Homo sapiens: one gene and its partners. The protein of the gene in region 1 interacts with the protein of each later gene in a pairwise test. Each region holds a gene or a part of one and is shown in the gene's direction. Other genes may lie near its edges.

Region 1 (3,500 bases):
TTAGCCAGGCATGGTGGCACACACCTGTAATTTCAGCTACTCAGGAAGCTGAGGCAGGAGAATAACTTGAACCTAGGAGGTGGAGGTTGCAGTGAGCCAAGAATACACCAATGCACTCCAGCCTGGGCAACAGATAAGACTGTTTCAAAAAAAAAAATTTTTGTCAATGTTAAAGAAAAGCTAATATTGGCAGGAATGTGGTGAGACTGACATCCTGACATACACAAGCAGGACTGGGGATCAGTGTCGCCTTTCTGTAAAGCACTTTTGCAGTATAAATCAGGAGCCCTTGAAAGTTCAGAAGCTCTATTTTTGTAGTTCTTGTGCTAGATATCTTTCCCTAGAAGGTTAAAAAGAAAGAAAAAACGGGGAACGTTTTAAAAAAATAGCATTATTTATAATAATTAAAATCACTGGGCATGGTGGATCACGTTTGTAATCCCAGCACTTTGGGAGGCCAAGGCGGGTGAATCACTTGAGGTCAGGAGTTCGAGACCAGCCTGTCCAACATGCTGAAACCCCATCTCTACTAAAAATACAAAAATTAGCTGGGCGTGGTGGTGTGCACCTGTAGTCCCAGCTACTTGGGGGCTGAGGCAGGAGAATTGCTTGAACCCGGGAGGCGGAGATTGCAGTGAGCTAAGATAACGCCACTGCACTCCAGCCTGCATGACGGAGTGAGCCTCCGTCTCAATAAATAAACAAAAATTAGCTGGGTGTGGTTGTGGGCGCCTGTAATCCCAGCTACTTGAGAGGCTGAGCCATGAGAATTGCTTGAGCCTGGGAGGCAGAGGTTGCAGTGAGCCGGGATCACATCGCTGTACTCCAGCCTGGGTGACAGACTGAGACTCTGTCTCAATAATAATAATAATAATAATCACAGACAATTGATGTCCAGTGATATGGAAATGCTTAAGTGAATGATAATACATCCATACTAGATACTATGACATAATGCAGCCATAAATGTCTTAAAAAAAAAGACAGTCTCACTCTGTTGTCCAGACTGGAGTACAGTGGCATGATCACAGCTCACTGCAGCCTCAACCTCCTGGGTTCAAGCAGTCCTCCTGCCTTAGCCTTTCTAGCAATGGCAATGTCTCATATTTTTTTCATAATATAGATTGCTTAAGAAATAGTGTGACATAGGACAGGTGTGGTGGCTCATGCCTGTAATTCCAAGTACTTTGGGAGGCTAAGGCAGGAGGATCACTTGAGGCCAGGAATTTGAGACCTCATTTATACCAAAAAAAAAAAAAAAAAAAAAAGAAGCAGCAGCAGGTGTGGCACGTGCTTGTAGTCCTAGCTACTTGGAAGGCTGGGGCAGGAAGATCCCTCGTGTTCGGGAGCTTGAGTTTGCAGTGAACTATGATCATACCACTGCAATCCAGCCTGTGAGATCCTATCTCTGGAAAAAAAAAAAAGAGAGAAAGAAAAAGAAAAGAAAAAATAACATGAAGTAAAAACCAGTAACAAAAATTAAAAAGCAAATTCAGCAGCACATTCTTTTAGCAGCCAGTTACTCTTCAGGTGCTTTCCATACTAATAGTCATAACAGACTTGTGAGATAGGCCCTATTTATTGTCTGTTTTATAGATGAGGAAAATGGAGCAGGAACACAGCTACCTGAGGCTGCACAGCTCATTGGAGCCATTTATGTGATTGGAGCCCAGCACTTTGGCTTCAGAGTCCTTGTTCCTGACCATAACACTCTAGCAGAGCTGGTCAGGATTCAGAGTACCTGAAAGCATGATCCAATTTTGGTTGTCTCAAGATTGTTTCTTTTTCAAGTATATGAAAAAAGGGCAGTTGTGCTAGGGTATTGAGAGTGGTTTTTTCTGGTTTATAAGATTATGGGTAGTTATTACTTTTATAAGATAAAAAATATAAAGGATTTTAAAGCATGGACTAGAAAAGAGTAAGAAAATAGACTGAAAAATAAAAGTGTGATTGTATTGAGATTATTTTTACTTCTTTTAAGAAATATTTTCTATTATGTAGATAAATTCACTCTTATAAGAAAACTTTTAAATGAATTACTGATTACAAACCAGCCATCCTAGTAATTCTGGAAGCTGATGCTCGTGTTGATTTTTCCCCCCTTGGGACAGGGTCTCACTCTGTCACCCTGCTGGAGTGCAGTGGCGCGATGACAGCTCACTGCAGCCGCGACCTTCCGGGCTCAGGTGATCCTCCCACCTCAGCCTCCTGGGTAGCTGGGAGTACAGGCACATGCTACCATGCCCAGCTAATTTTTGTATTTTTTGTAGAGACAGAGTTTTGCCATGTTGCTCAGGCCAGTCTCAAACTCCTGGGCTCAAGCGATCCGCCCACCTTAGCCTCCTAAAGTGCTGGGATTGTAGGCGTGAGCCACCTCATCCGGCCCTCATGTCAGTTTTTACAGGAGATGGGGATGCTGCTGGGCTTTGATCCCTATGTATGTGCAAGCAAGGAAAGCTCAGAGACGCAGGAGGGCAGGAGGAAAACACTAGCCGTAGTTCTCTCTGGAGGGCAGGTTTTACACAATTACTCTTAGCTCTTTGGTTTTCAGGTTTCTCACCTTTCTGCATTAGACATTGATATAATATTTGAAGCATATGAAGTGTGCTTGAGTTATTTTTGTAAGGAAAAAAAGTGTTAAGAAACATTGCTTTAATGTTTTCTATATTTTCTCAAAAGTTCTAGGCTCAGAAACCTTATTACTCTTGTACTAGTTTCTTTTCTCTCTGCCTCCACAGGAAGGAAGAGGGAATGGTTTAAAATAGAAGACGCCATAAAAGTGCTGCAGTATCACAAACCCGTGCAGGCATCATATTTTGAAACATTGAGGCAAGGCTACTCAGCCAACAATGGCACCCCAGTCGTGGCCACCACATACTCGGTTTCTGCTCAGAGCTCGATGTCAGGCATCAGATGACTGAAGACTTCCTGTAAGAGAAATGGAAATTGGAAACTAGACTGAAGTGCAAATCTTCCCTCTCACCCTGGCTCTTTCCACTTCTCACAGGCCTCCTCTTTCAAATAAGGCATGGTGGGCAGCAAAGAAAGGGTGTATTGATAATGTTGCTGTTTGGTGTTAAGTGATGGGGCTTTTTCTTCTGTTTTTATTGAGGGTGGGGGTTGGGTGTGTAATTTGTAAGTACTTTTGTGCATGATCTGTCCCTCCCTCTTCCCACCCCTGCAGTCCTCTGAAGAGAGGCCAACAGCCTTCCCCTGCCTTGGATTCTGAAGTGTTCCTGTTTGTCTTATCCTGGCCCTGGCCAGACGTTTTCTTTGATTTTTAATTTTTTTTTTTTATTAAAAGATACCAGTATGAGATGAAAACTTCCAATAATTTGTCCTATAATGTGCTGTACAGTTCAGTAGAGTGGTCACTTTCACTGCAGTATACATTTATCTACACATTATATATCGGACATATAATATGTAAATAAATGACTTCTAGAAAGAGAAATTTGTTTAATTTTTCAAGGTTTTTTTCTCTTTTAATTTGGGCATTT
Region 2 (3,593 bases), on another chromosome or scaffold:
ACAGGGTTGGTTTTTTTAAAAATCTATTTATTTGTACTTCTTCTGGGAGATTTCTCAATCTGACCTCCTTTTTTTTTTTTCTGAGATGGACTCTTGGTCTGTTGCCCAGGCTAGAGTGCCATGGTACAATCTCCGCTCACTGCAACCTCCGCATCCTGGGTTCAAGTGATTGTCCTGCCTCAGCCTCCCGAGTAGCTGGGATTACAGGCATGTGCCACCACGCCTGGTCAATTTTTGTATTTTTTTTGGTAGAGAAAGAGTTTCACCATGTTGGCCAGGGTGCTCTCGAACTCCTGACCTTAAGCAATCCACCCACCTCGGCCTCCCAAAGTGCTGGGATTACAGGCGTGAGCCACCGTGCCCGGACTCAATCTGACCATCTAATTTTCAACTGTACTCCATGATTACATTATAACCATTCTGTTATTCCTGCTATATACCGTGTTCTTCATTTCAACTATTATATTGTTCACACCTAATGTTTTTGCTTGGCTCTCTTCTTCTTGTCCTTGTTTCATATTGCTAATATTTTCTCATTTCTTTTAGTATGGTTACCGCTCCCCAGTTTAAAATTCTTGGTCAGCAGTTCTAATATTGTTGCTCCTGACCAAAACTTGTAGTTGATTGTGTTGTTTTTCTTTTGAAATGTACTCTTGGCCAGGCGTGGTGGCTCATGCCTGCAATTCTAGCACTTTGGGAGGCCGAGGCGGGCAGATGGCCTGAGCTCAGGAGTTCGAGACCAGCCTGGGCAACACGGTGAAACCCTGTCTCTACTAAAATACAAACGAAATTAGCTGGGTGTGGCAGAGTGCACCTGTAGTCCCAGCTACTCAGGAGGTGAGGCAGGAGAACTGCTTGAATCTGGGATGCAGAGGTTGCAGTGAACCGAGATCACACTACTGCACTCCAGCCTAGGCAACAGAGCCAGACTCCATCTCTAAAAAAAAAAAAAGAAATATATTCTTAAAATATCTTTTTATTTTAGCCTACAAACTGCTTTTCATCCATGAGTATCAGCTATCCCATCAGGCACTGGAATGGAGGGGGCCCCAGTCCATGCTAGTACTAGTAAGTTCTGGGTAGGGGGTGGATGAGTCCTAGGAGTGGGGGGCCCCAGGCACACAGGAACCATAGTTAACCACTCTTCACCTACAGAAGAGCTCCTCAGGTCAAAGCTTCACTGTACAGTCCCCTTCTACCCCAGCAAAGCAGCATCAAAAGGAAGTGATCCTGGGTTATAGTTCACAGCTCTAGGGGTTGGAGCAGGAGGGGTAGGGAAGTAACTGCCTTTAGTTAGTGTCCACCTGTTTTCCTGAGTGATTTGCAAAGACAGGACTTTTATGCCAAAACCTCTGTTTTAGAAAAAAGTAGAGGACAATATTTTTTAACTTTGAGGTATAGAAGCAAGACAAAATACAAAAGTTTCAAAGAAAAAGATTTGATAAATTCAACTAAAAATTTCTAAAAATTAAATTTCTATATGACAGTGGGCAGCATAAACAAAGTTAAAATAATGACAGACTAGGAAGATAGATTTACAACATTTACACCAAATAAGGAATATCCAGAATACATAACAATTTCCATAAGTAAAAAGAAAAAGAAAATGGGAAAAGGTTCTAAGTTAAGTATTTCACGGAAGAGAAAAAATATGAATGGCTAGTAAACAGCTCACCAGTGATGTGGGAAGTGTGAGTTAAAATAGTGAAATCCCATATTTTGTTCATTAAACTGGCAGATATTTTAAAGATTGAAAATATCTGGTATTGGTGAATGTATAGGGAAATGGACATGTAATGGTACAGGCTGAACATCTGAAATTGGAAATCCTAAATGCTTTAAAACCCCAAACTTTTTGAGTGCCCACATAATGATCAAAGGAAATGCTCATTGGAGCATTTAGATTTTAGAGTTTCTGATTTGGTATGCTCAGTTGGTATAATGTACATATTCCAAAATCTGAATAAATGTGAAACCCGAAACACTTTTAGTCCCAAGCATTTCACATAAGGGATACTTAACAGCCTAGTGGTATAAACTTGAATAACCTTTTTAAGGGACCTTTTAACCATTTCTTGTTGAATTGAAAAATGATACTCTTAACAATTCTAAGGAAATAGTCACTGTGCATTAAAGAGCTGCACAAAGATATTCATGGCAGCATTTTTTGTTGTCAACTGTATATAATATGAACTGCATAATGTAAACATTATAAACAGAAATGTCCATCAGCAGGTAAATGGTTCATTCAATTAATAGTATATCCATACAGTTAAATGGAATGAAATAGATCCATATGTACAGACCCAGAAATTTTTGCATAATTTAGTAATTATGAAAAGTTATACAGGACAGTTGTGCTAGCTTTTGCCTGTAATCCCAGCATACTCGGAGGCCAAGGCAGAAGGACTGCTTGAGGCCAGGAGTTTGACACCATCCTGGGCAACATGGTGAGACCCTGTCTCCACACACACAAATTTAAAAATTAACCAGGCTCCCAGATCACAGCATGTTGACCAAAAAAAAAAAAACCGAAAACCAAAAAACAAATGCCAGGCATGGTGGTGCATGCCTGTGGTCCCATCTGCTCAGGAGGCTGAGGTGGGAGGATGGTTTGAGCCCAGGAGTTCAAGGCTACAATAAGCAATGATCACCCAACTGCACTCTAGCCTGGGTGACAGAGTGAGACCCTGTCTCGAAAAAGAAAAAAAGTAATAGAACATTAAATACAGTATCACACCATTTATGGTTAAAAAAGAAAAAAGACAAGACACTATATGAAGTGAGTGTCTTTTAAAGTTTAAAAAATTAAATGAAAACATGCTCAGTATAGATTCTTTTATATTTTTGAATGACTTCACCACAGAATGCCTTGTAAGGCAATTAAGAATTTTCCTTTCAAAACTGATGGAAGAAAATAAAAATTGGTCTGTGGAAAGAGTTGATTTCAAAGATTGGATTTTTTTGTTTTTATTATTCAAAGTCATTTAACATTTATAAAAATATTCTTACAATCTTTAATTTGGACATGACATAATTTAAACTTCAGATAATTTTAAAGCCCTTAATAAGATCCATCTAATCGTAGGGACCTCACAGTAGTCTTTAGTGGAAAGAAATTGGCTTTTGCTTTGGGCCCACTTGCTTGTGGCAGTGAACACTATCTTGTCAGCAGAACTACTTGCAGTAGTTCTGACCTCAGACTTCCAAATGTGAGCAAGCTTGACTTCTAGCCTACTCCTAATCACCTCTGCTAATGGAGTTCACAGAGAGGTAGAGAGAAGATCCAAAATAAATGGTAGTCACTGAATCATTTATATTTGGTTTTGAAGTTCATTTAAAATATTGCTTTGTAGCAGACTTTCTTCCCTAATGGTAAAATGAATGTGCATCCATTAGTAGTCTCCAGCTGCATGGCATCATAGTGTTCATGAAAGTGAATTTATTGCATACATTCCAAATAGATAACATACTTGAAAGGATTAAACATTCATGATGCTGTCAATCAAAATACTTTCTTCCTACATTAGTGGCATACTCTGAATGACCTAGTGAACAGACTGAGAAGAGGCCTCTGAATTGCAGAGTCTCGT
Region 3 (3,593 bases), on another chromosome or scaffold:
TTGCCAAATAATAAGCAGTTTGTTGGCTGCCAGTTTGTGAGCTCTGGAAAATAAGGTCTTAGGCACCATGTCGAGATAATGGCCCTTGATGATTCCATCACACCTGACAAGGTCTCTCCCTCACTTTTGTAATATTTTTTGTTGATTTACTTGGGAAAGTCCTCCAGCCTACATGTCTGCTATGGATGTTAGCCACTGGGGAGAAGACAAAATCCTGTGTCCTCATTATTCACCTTCAGTAACCAGCAACATTATACTACTTTTATCTGTCCCTCCCCCACTTTTTTGCTAGAGCTGTATAAAGCAAATCACAGTCATTTCATTCTGCCAATAAACAATTGAAAAAGGCATATTTCAACAGAACTACAATGCCATTATCACATCCAGTAAAATTAACAGTAGTCCCTTATAATCCCTTATAATATCCAGTCTACATTGAAATTTCTCCAGTTATCTAAAAATTATCTTTATGTTTGGGTTTGTTCAAATCAGTTTCCAAACAAGGTCTATCATTTCATTATGTTTGTTCCTTTAGAAATAGACAATTTTAAAAACCAAACAGAATGGGACTGTCTTCTGCAAGCCTACCTACAAACAGGTAAATAAATCCTATTCTACCAGGAATCAGCTGTTCTTCCCGTGTGTCTTTTAAGTATGGAGTCTCAGCATTAAGCAGTTAGCACCTGAACTTGCAGGGAGGCAGGAGCGGGAGTCTGTCTCAGAGGGAAGCTATTTTACTTTCTTTCGGCTCTCAGCGACAGAGAATCAGATTCATCATAATCCTTGATTCATAACACACTATTTTTTTTGAGACAGGGTCTTGCTCTGTTGCCCAGGCAGCACACTGCAGCCTTGAACCCTGGGTTCAAGCAATCTTCCTGCCTCAACCTCCCAAGCAGCTGGGACTATAGGTGGGCACCACCACACCTGGCTAATTTTTTTAATTTTTAGTAGAGATGGCATCTCACTATGTTGCTCAGGCTGGTCTTGAACCCCTGAGCTTAAGTAATTCTCCTGCCTTGGCCTCCCAAAGTGCCGGGATTATAGGCATGAGCCAACACACCTGGCCTGCTTTAAGAATTATAGAAAAGGCTATATGTAATCTTTTGTGATTTACCTTTTTCATTCAAAAATCATGTTTTTGAATATGAGAAGCAACACGAGTCAACCATTCAAAAAGATTATAAGGGTATAATCTAATATCCAGTCCACACTGAAATTTCCCAAGTTATCTAAAAAATGCAGAGATGGGGTCTCATCTTGTTGTATAGCTGGAGTTCATTCGACTGCTATATAATATTCCATTGTATAAATAAATTATAATTTATTTGTCTACATCTCTAGTCACTCTTTCCTTACTGCCTGTTTGTGAGAGGAGTGGGTGGCACAAAGTCCTAGAGTCTGTCGTGTGGGGGAAGTGCAGGGGATGAAATTTTTGTCTTGAATATCCTGTTATTTCTGTCCTAGGTACAATGTTGTTTTTAAGTACTTACTGAGTGTGCGCCGGGTGCAAGCTGAGCTGCAGCACTGCTGGGCCCTACAAATGCAGCGCAAGCACCTCAAGTCGAACCAGACTGATGCAATCAAGTGGCGCCTAAGAAATCACATGGCATTTTTGGTGGATAATCTTCAGTACTATCTCCAGGTCTGTGCTAAGAGATGAGTAGAAGGAAGGGGTACGGAAAAACGTCTAGGAGGTTGGCAGGGAGTATTGAATAGGGACTACAAGTTTCTATTTGATAAAATGGTGGGGTTTGGGAAAATTCAGGAGTTATATCACCAAGCATGTTTCTTAAAATAAAAAAAGCATTTTATTTTATTTTATTTTATTATTTTTTAGAGACAGGGTCTTTCTCTGTTTCCCAGGCTGGAATGCAGTGGTACAGTCATAGCTCACTGAAGCCTCAAGCTCCTGGACTCAAGTGATCCCCCTGCCTCAGCCTCTCAAGTAGCTATGACTACAGATACATGCCACCACACCCAGCTGGTTTGTTTTTATTTTTTGTAGAGATGGATTCTCACTTTGTTGCCCAGGCTGGTCTCAAACTCCTGGCTTCAGCGAGGTGTCATGGGTCACGTCTGTAATCTCAGCACTTTGGGAGGCTGAGATGGGCGGATCACTTGAGGTCAGGAGTTTGAGACCAGCCTGGCCAGCATGGTGAAACACCATCTCTACTAAAAATACAAAAAAATTAGCCAAGCGTGGTGGCGCCTGTTTGTAGTCCCAGCTACCTGGGAGGCTGAGGCAGGAGAATCGCTTGAACCTGGGAGGTGGAGGTTGCAGTGAGCCAAGATCATGCCATTGCACTCCAGCCTGGGCAACAGAGTGAGACTCCGTCTCCAAAAAAAAAAAACTCCAGGCTTCAAATGATCCTCCTGCCTTTGCCTCCCAAAGTGCTGGGATTATAGGCATGAACCACCGCCACACCAGCCTCTTAAAGGCATTTTAAAGAATCCTCATCAACAATCTATTATTTATTGTTGACTTGCCCCTTATTTTTATTGTTTGCTATAACTTCTGGAATCCTGTAGGTGACCAAGTCAGTCAGTAGACGGAATGTGGCCATGAGTGGATTAGGATGGGGCAGGGGAGGCTGGGCGCAGTGGCTCACACCTGTAATCCCAGCACTTTGGGAGGCTGAGCCAAACAGATCACCTGAGGTCAGGAGTTCGAGACCAACCTGGCCAACATAGTGAAACCCCTTCTCTACTAAAAATACAAAAATTAGCCATGCGTGGTAGCGGGCACCTGTAATCTTAGCTACTCAGGAGGCTGAGGCAGGAGAATTGCTTGAACCCTGGTATGTGGAAGTTGCAGTGAGCCAGGATCGCACCACTGCACTCCAGCCTGGGTGGCAGAGCAAGACTCCGTCTCAAAAAAAAAAAAAGGAAAAAGAGAAAAGGATGGGGCAGGGGAGAGTGGTCAGCCAGGACGTTGGAGGGAGGGGGTTCAGAATTATGCAAATAACTTCCTACAAGGCTGGGCAATATAAGGGTGTCTTTGGTCAGCCTTAATGTGACTTGGTTAGAAGGAAGATGAGTGGAGGCAAAGCATTTTCATTTCAATCTGTCAGGCATCTTAATGTCTTCGAGTGCTTAGAATATGCAAAGTGCTAAAATTTTTTGTAATGTCTATCAGGTAGATGTGTTGGAGTCTCAGTTCTCCCAGCTGCTTCATCAGATCAATTCTACCCGAGACTTTGAAAGCATCCGATTGGCTCATGACCACTTCCTGAGCAATTTGCTGGCTCAATCCTTTATCCTATTGAAACCTGTAAGTAAGGCTCATTGGTTTCCTCAGACTGCTTCTACCACTGACCATTCCCTTAGGCAGTTTGAGTTGACAGGATACGAAACCATCATTAAGCAATTATTCAAGTCCATTTTAAAACATTTTTTAAGAATGTGTAAAGCGGCGGGGCATGGTGGCTCATGCCTGTAATCCCAGCACTTTGGGAGGCCGAGGTGGGCGGATCACAAGGTCAGGAGTTCAAGACCAGCCTGGCCAACATGGTGAAAACCCGTCTCTACTAAAAATACAGAAGAAAAAAAAAATAATAGGTGTGGTGGCTCGCGCCTGTAATCCCAGCTAC
Region 4 (3,593 bases), on another chromosome or scaffold:
AGGCTTGGTGGCATGCAACTGTGGTCCCAACTGCTTGGGAGGCTAAGGCAAGAGGATTGCTTGAGCCTGGGAGGCAGAGGTTGCAGTGAGCCGAGATCATGCCACTGCACTCCAGCCTGGGCAAGAGAGCAAGACCATGTTTCAAAAAAACAAAAAACAAAAAAACTAGAGCTAGTAATGCCTCCCTTATGGAGGTGAATGAAGTTCAATATGTTAATGCCTTGCTAAAGTTATCTTTAAAATTCTCTTTCTACTTTCTTAAAAACTTGAGGTTCTTTAGAGTAAAGTCAAACTGGCTAGTTTTTACCCTGGGACTAAAATATAGAGAACTAGATTTTATACCTGCTGTCCATGAAAGTTGAATGTTTTATAAGTAGTTAATTTGTTTTCCCATTTAAAAGGACATGTAATAATATTTATTATAGGAGATTTGGCTGGCTTTTAGGAATTCATTTTGCTGGTGTACCTTAAGTCCCTCGCCTGATTGACAATATACTGAGGAAAGAGCTAAGTTGCTAGGGCTTGAGGTCTAAGGGCAGCACTGACTGGTATTTGTTTCATTAAGCTTAGGCAAGCTATCCAATTACTTAATGCAAACAAGAAAAGTTTACACTAAACTCCTACTTCTTTGCTTGAAACTCTAGAGAATTTAAATGAGGAGAGATATGTATTTAAAAGAAAGAAATTTAAATGAAACTTAAATCAGGGACTTAATGTAGAATATATTAGAGCAGGAGATCTAAAATATTAAGTGGGAAATGCCAATAAATAAAAAAGGAATGTATTCTCTAAGATACTTGGCATGTTTAGTTTTGTTTTGAGATAATTCTTAAATCTTTGGAAACCCAAGTTAATAATGAGAGACTTATTTTATCTCCTGCCTTTACATATAAAGTCCTGCCTTCCCTTGGTCAGTGAGAGCCTGGGTCTTCTCTCCTTAGTGAAGTGTTCCCAAAACAACATGGCTTCTGATTTTATAGCTCCACTATCTGGGCAGTAGTTTTCAGAGAGGCCCAGATGGCAGGGCTGTCTTATTTGGTTCAAAAAGAGAAAAATTGGTTGACAGCTCATCTACCTTTTGCAGATGGCTGTTGAATAGTATAGCTCCATGCGGTATAAAACCAAGGGGCCAGAGAGGAAGCTTTGAAAGTAATTGGGGGTTTCTGAAAACATAAGCAGTTTTTCTTTGCAAAGTGGTTTTGGCTCAGTAAAGAATTTACAGGAACCATTGAAAGAGGAAACTTAGAAGAAAATAATTGCCATGCAATATTTTGGAGGGGAGGGTTGGGGAAATGGAGAATGGTACAATTTTGAAGTTTCAAATCTATTGCTTTTAAATGGGAAATGGTACAACTTAGAAGCTTCTCATCTTTGGGCACTGGTCAAAACTGAACCTCAGTCAGTATACCATTGAAACTCTGTCCTCCAAGAGAATCTGAAAGCAAGTAAAATTCTTTGCAGAGGTGATTTCATGCCTCAGAGACCCTTCTAAGTGTCACAGGAATCTAACTGAAGGAAATCCTTTCTTGGTGCTTCTGGACCCAACTGATGTTTCCTCTGCCTAAGACACTTTCTCCTTCCCCATGTTGCTCAGTTAATGTCCTGTAGAGCTCAAGTTAAATATCAGTCCCACCCATGCAGTGTCATAGATACCTACCTAACTTTTTAAAAATAATGCATCTGTTATTTGTAATCATGGCTCATGAAAGTAGGGACTGTGTCTCTTGCTCACTACTTCATTCTCAGTAACCAGAGTAGTCCCTTTCACCTAGTAATTATATACTGAATAAATTTATGAATTCCAGTGTGTAGTTTTTGTTGAGTACTGTAGTGAGAAATCTCAGGATTACAGTAGAAGTATATGTGCCCATCGAGTAGAAATTATAACAGTATCAAGCTGGGAGATAATATAATGCCCCTCTGTTTTATTTATCCCCTGCCACCACCTTTTTCAAGATTTTTTATGGAATGAGGAATAATATGTTTAAGGTATAGACTTTTTAGAATGTTTATATGCAAAGGACCATAAGATTATATAGTAGTTCAACCTTCAAATTTTAAAACTGAGGAAACTGAGGCTTATTAGATTGTACAGCTAAGTTGTTGATAGGAAATGAGAATTTGTTCAGAGTCCTACTGCCAAACTCCCTGATGACAAAAAATTTGGTTTCTTAAACAGTCACCATACAGACCTTAAAAAAAGTTTTTTTAAAATTTATAAACATTCCTTTAAAAACATTTGAGAATTTGTGCAGTTCTATTTGTAAGGATGAATGAAAGTATAAGAATTTATTAAGAAAGGAAAATAATATTCTTTTTAGTCAGTTTGCACCACTGCCAATCCTCTTTCAATCCAGGTGTCAAATATAGTTAGGTGTTGATGTTGGAGGGGCTCTGGACTGTTGTGGCACCTCCTGTTGTAGGCTATTTAATGTAGCCTGGGATTATATCACAGATGTGCCACATCTAACATGGTGGCTAAGCCCTTGGAGGATACAGTTTGTCTCGTTAGTTGTTTCTTATATACCATCGCCTTGTGTTCTTTTGCAGTTTGTTTTCCTTGTTTTGTTTGTGGTTAGAAATATGCCATTTATTTATTTATTCATTCATTCATTCACACATGCATACATCAACAACTTTTTCTTGCGTGTTTGATATGTGGCAGGCACTTTTATAAGTATGGGGGATATAGCAGTGAACAAAAATAGGGCAAATCGTTGTCCTTATGGAGCTATGGACAAGAGGGAAAGGAAGCAGCTTGTGAAAGGGTCTAGCTGCTGGAGTTAGTAGAGTCAATTTGTGATTTTAGAAGTCCTTAGAGATCATAAAAATAAAGCAGAATTTATTGGTGAAAAATTGGAAAAGATGATGGAGATGGCATTGTAGTTAGTGAATTTGGAGATTGTCTTCTTCATTTCGTAAAATCACTGCTTTCTCTGTATTCCTACCCGCATAGTGGGTACTATTATTATTACTGCTACTTACCTAACATTTATTGAGTGTATATTATGTTATGGGCATTGTGCTGAGTGCCTTGTTTATATAGAACGCTGTAAGGTAGGTATTACACTATTTCATTTTACCCATGAGAATAACAGGACTCACCGGAGATTAAATAAAGTACTTATTCAGATAGGAAGTTTAGAGCCTTGATTTGGACCCAGAGTTTGCATATCTGTACCAGTCATGGCAAGCTAAATATGTTTATTTTTATTATCACATTGAAGGCTTTTGTGCTCATGTTTTGCTTCTTTTTCATTAACTTGCCAAAATCCTTATGATCCTGTATTTCTTAAAGTTGAACCATGTAGAACTCCATATGTAATTAAAATCTAAGCCATACATAAGTAAACTAAAATGGAAAAAAAAAGTAGTAATTTTTAAACAGTACTTTAAAATTAGATACACCAAATGTGGTAGATGTGATAATTCAGTTGAACAGAATTCATTTTATGTTCATGAACTAATAATAGAATTTGAATAAACATTTTATATATGTTTGTAAAGTGCCTAGCACAGTGCTTAGTAGTTGATCCATAAATGATAGTAATTTTATTATTTTATTTTAGTTTCCACCTCACTGGTAAAAATAG

Evidence for each region.
Region 2: the proteins of NUDT3 (region 1) and REEP5 interact in a two-hybrid assay, tested with the Homo sapiens proteins (one large-scale study listed by BioGRID and IntAct).
Region 3: the proteins of NUDT3 (region 1) and TUBGCP4 interact in a two-hybrid assay, tested with the Homo sapiens proteins (one large-scale study listed by BioGRID and IntAct).
Region 4: the proteins of NUDT3 (region 1) and CHCHD3 interact in a two-hybrid assay, tested with the Homo sapiens proteins (one large-scale study listed by BioGRID and IntAct).

Annotation. Positions count from the first base shown.
Region 1 is NC_000006.12:34,288,170-34,291,669, reverse strand, and holds part of NUDT3 (diphosphoinositol polyphosphate phosphohydrolase 1), read left to right. Parts: intron 1-2,738; coding exon 2,739-2,917; 3' UTR 2,918-3,500. Other genes in the region: RPS10-NUDT3 protein, read left to right, coding at 2,739-2,917. UniProt on the Homo sapiens protein: Cleaves a beta-phosphate from the diphosphate groups in PP-InsP5 (diphosphoinositol pentakisphosphate) and [PP]2-InsP4 (bisdiphosphoinositol tetrakisphosphate), suggesting that it may play a role in signal transduction.
Region 2 is NC_000005.10:112,898,201-112,901,793, reverse strand, and holds part of REEP5 (receptor expression-enhancing protein 5), read left to right. Parts: intron 1-3,422; exon of another isoform or gene 3,423-3,593. UniProt on the Homo sapiens protein: Plays an essential role in heart function and development by regulating the organization and function of the sarcoplasmic reticulum in cardiomyocytes.
Region 3 is NC_000015.10:43,398,577-43,402,169, forward strand, and holds part of TUBGCP4 (gamma-tubulin complex component 4), read left to right. Parts: intron 1-535; coding exon of another isoform or gene 536-551; exon of another isoform or gene 552-598; intron 599-1,467; coding exon 1,468-1,645; intron 1,646-3,139; coding exon 3,140-3,274; intron 3,275-3,593. UniProt on the Homo sapiens protein: Component of the gamma-tubulin ring complex (gTuRC) which mediates microtubule nucleation.
Region 4 is NC_000007.14:132,977,554-132,981,146, reverse strand, and holds part of CHCHD3 (MICOS complex subunit MIC19), read left to right. Parts: intron 1-3,593. UniProt on the Homo sapiens protein: Component of the MICOS complex, a large protein complex of the mitochondrial inner membrane that plays crucial roles in the maintenance of crista junctions, inner membrane architecture, and formation of contact sites to the outer membrane.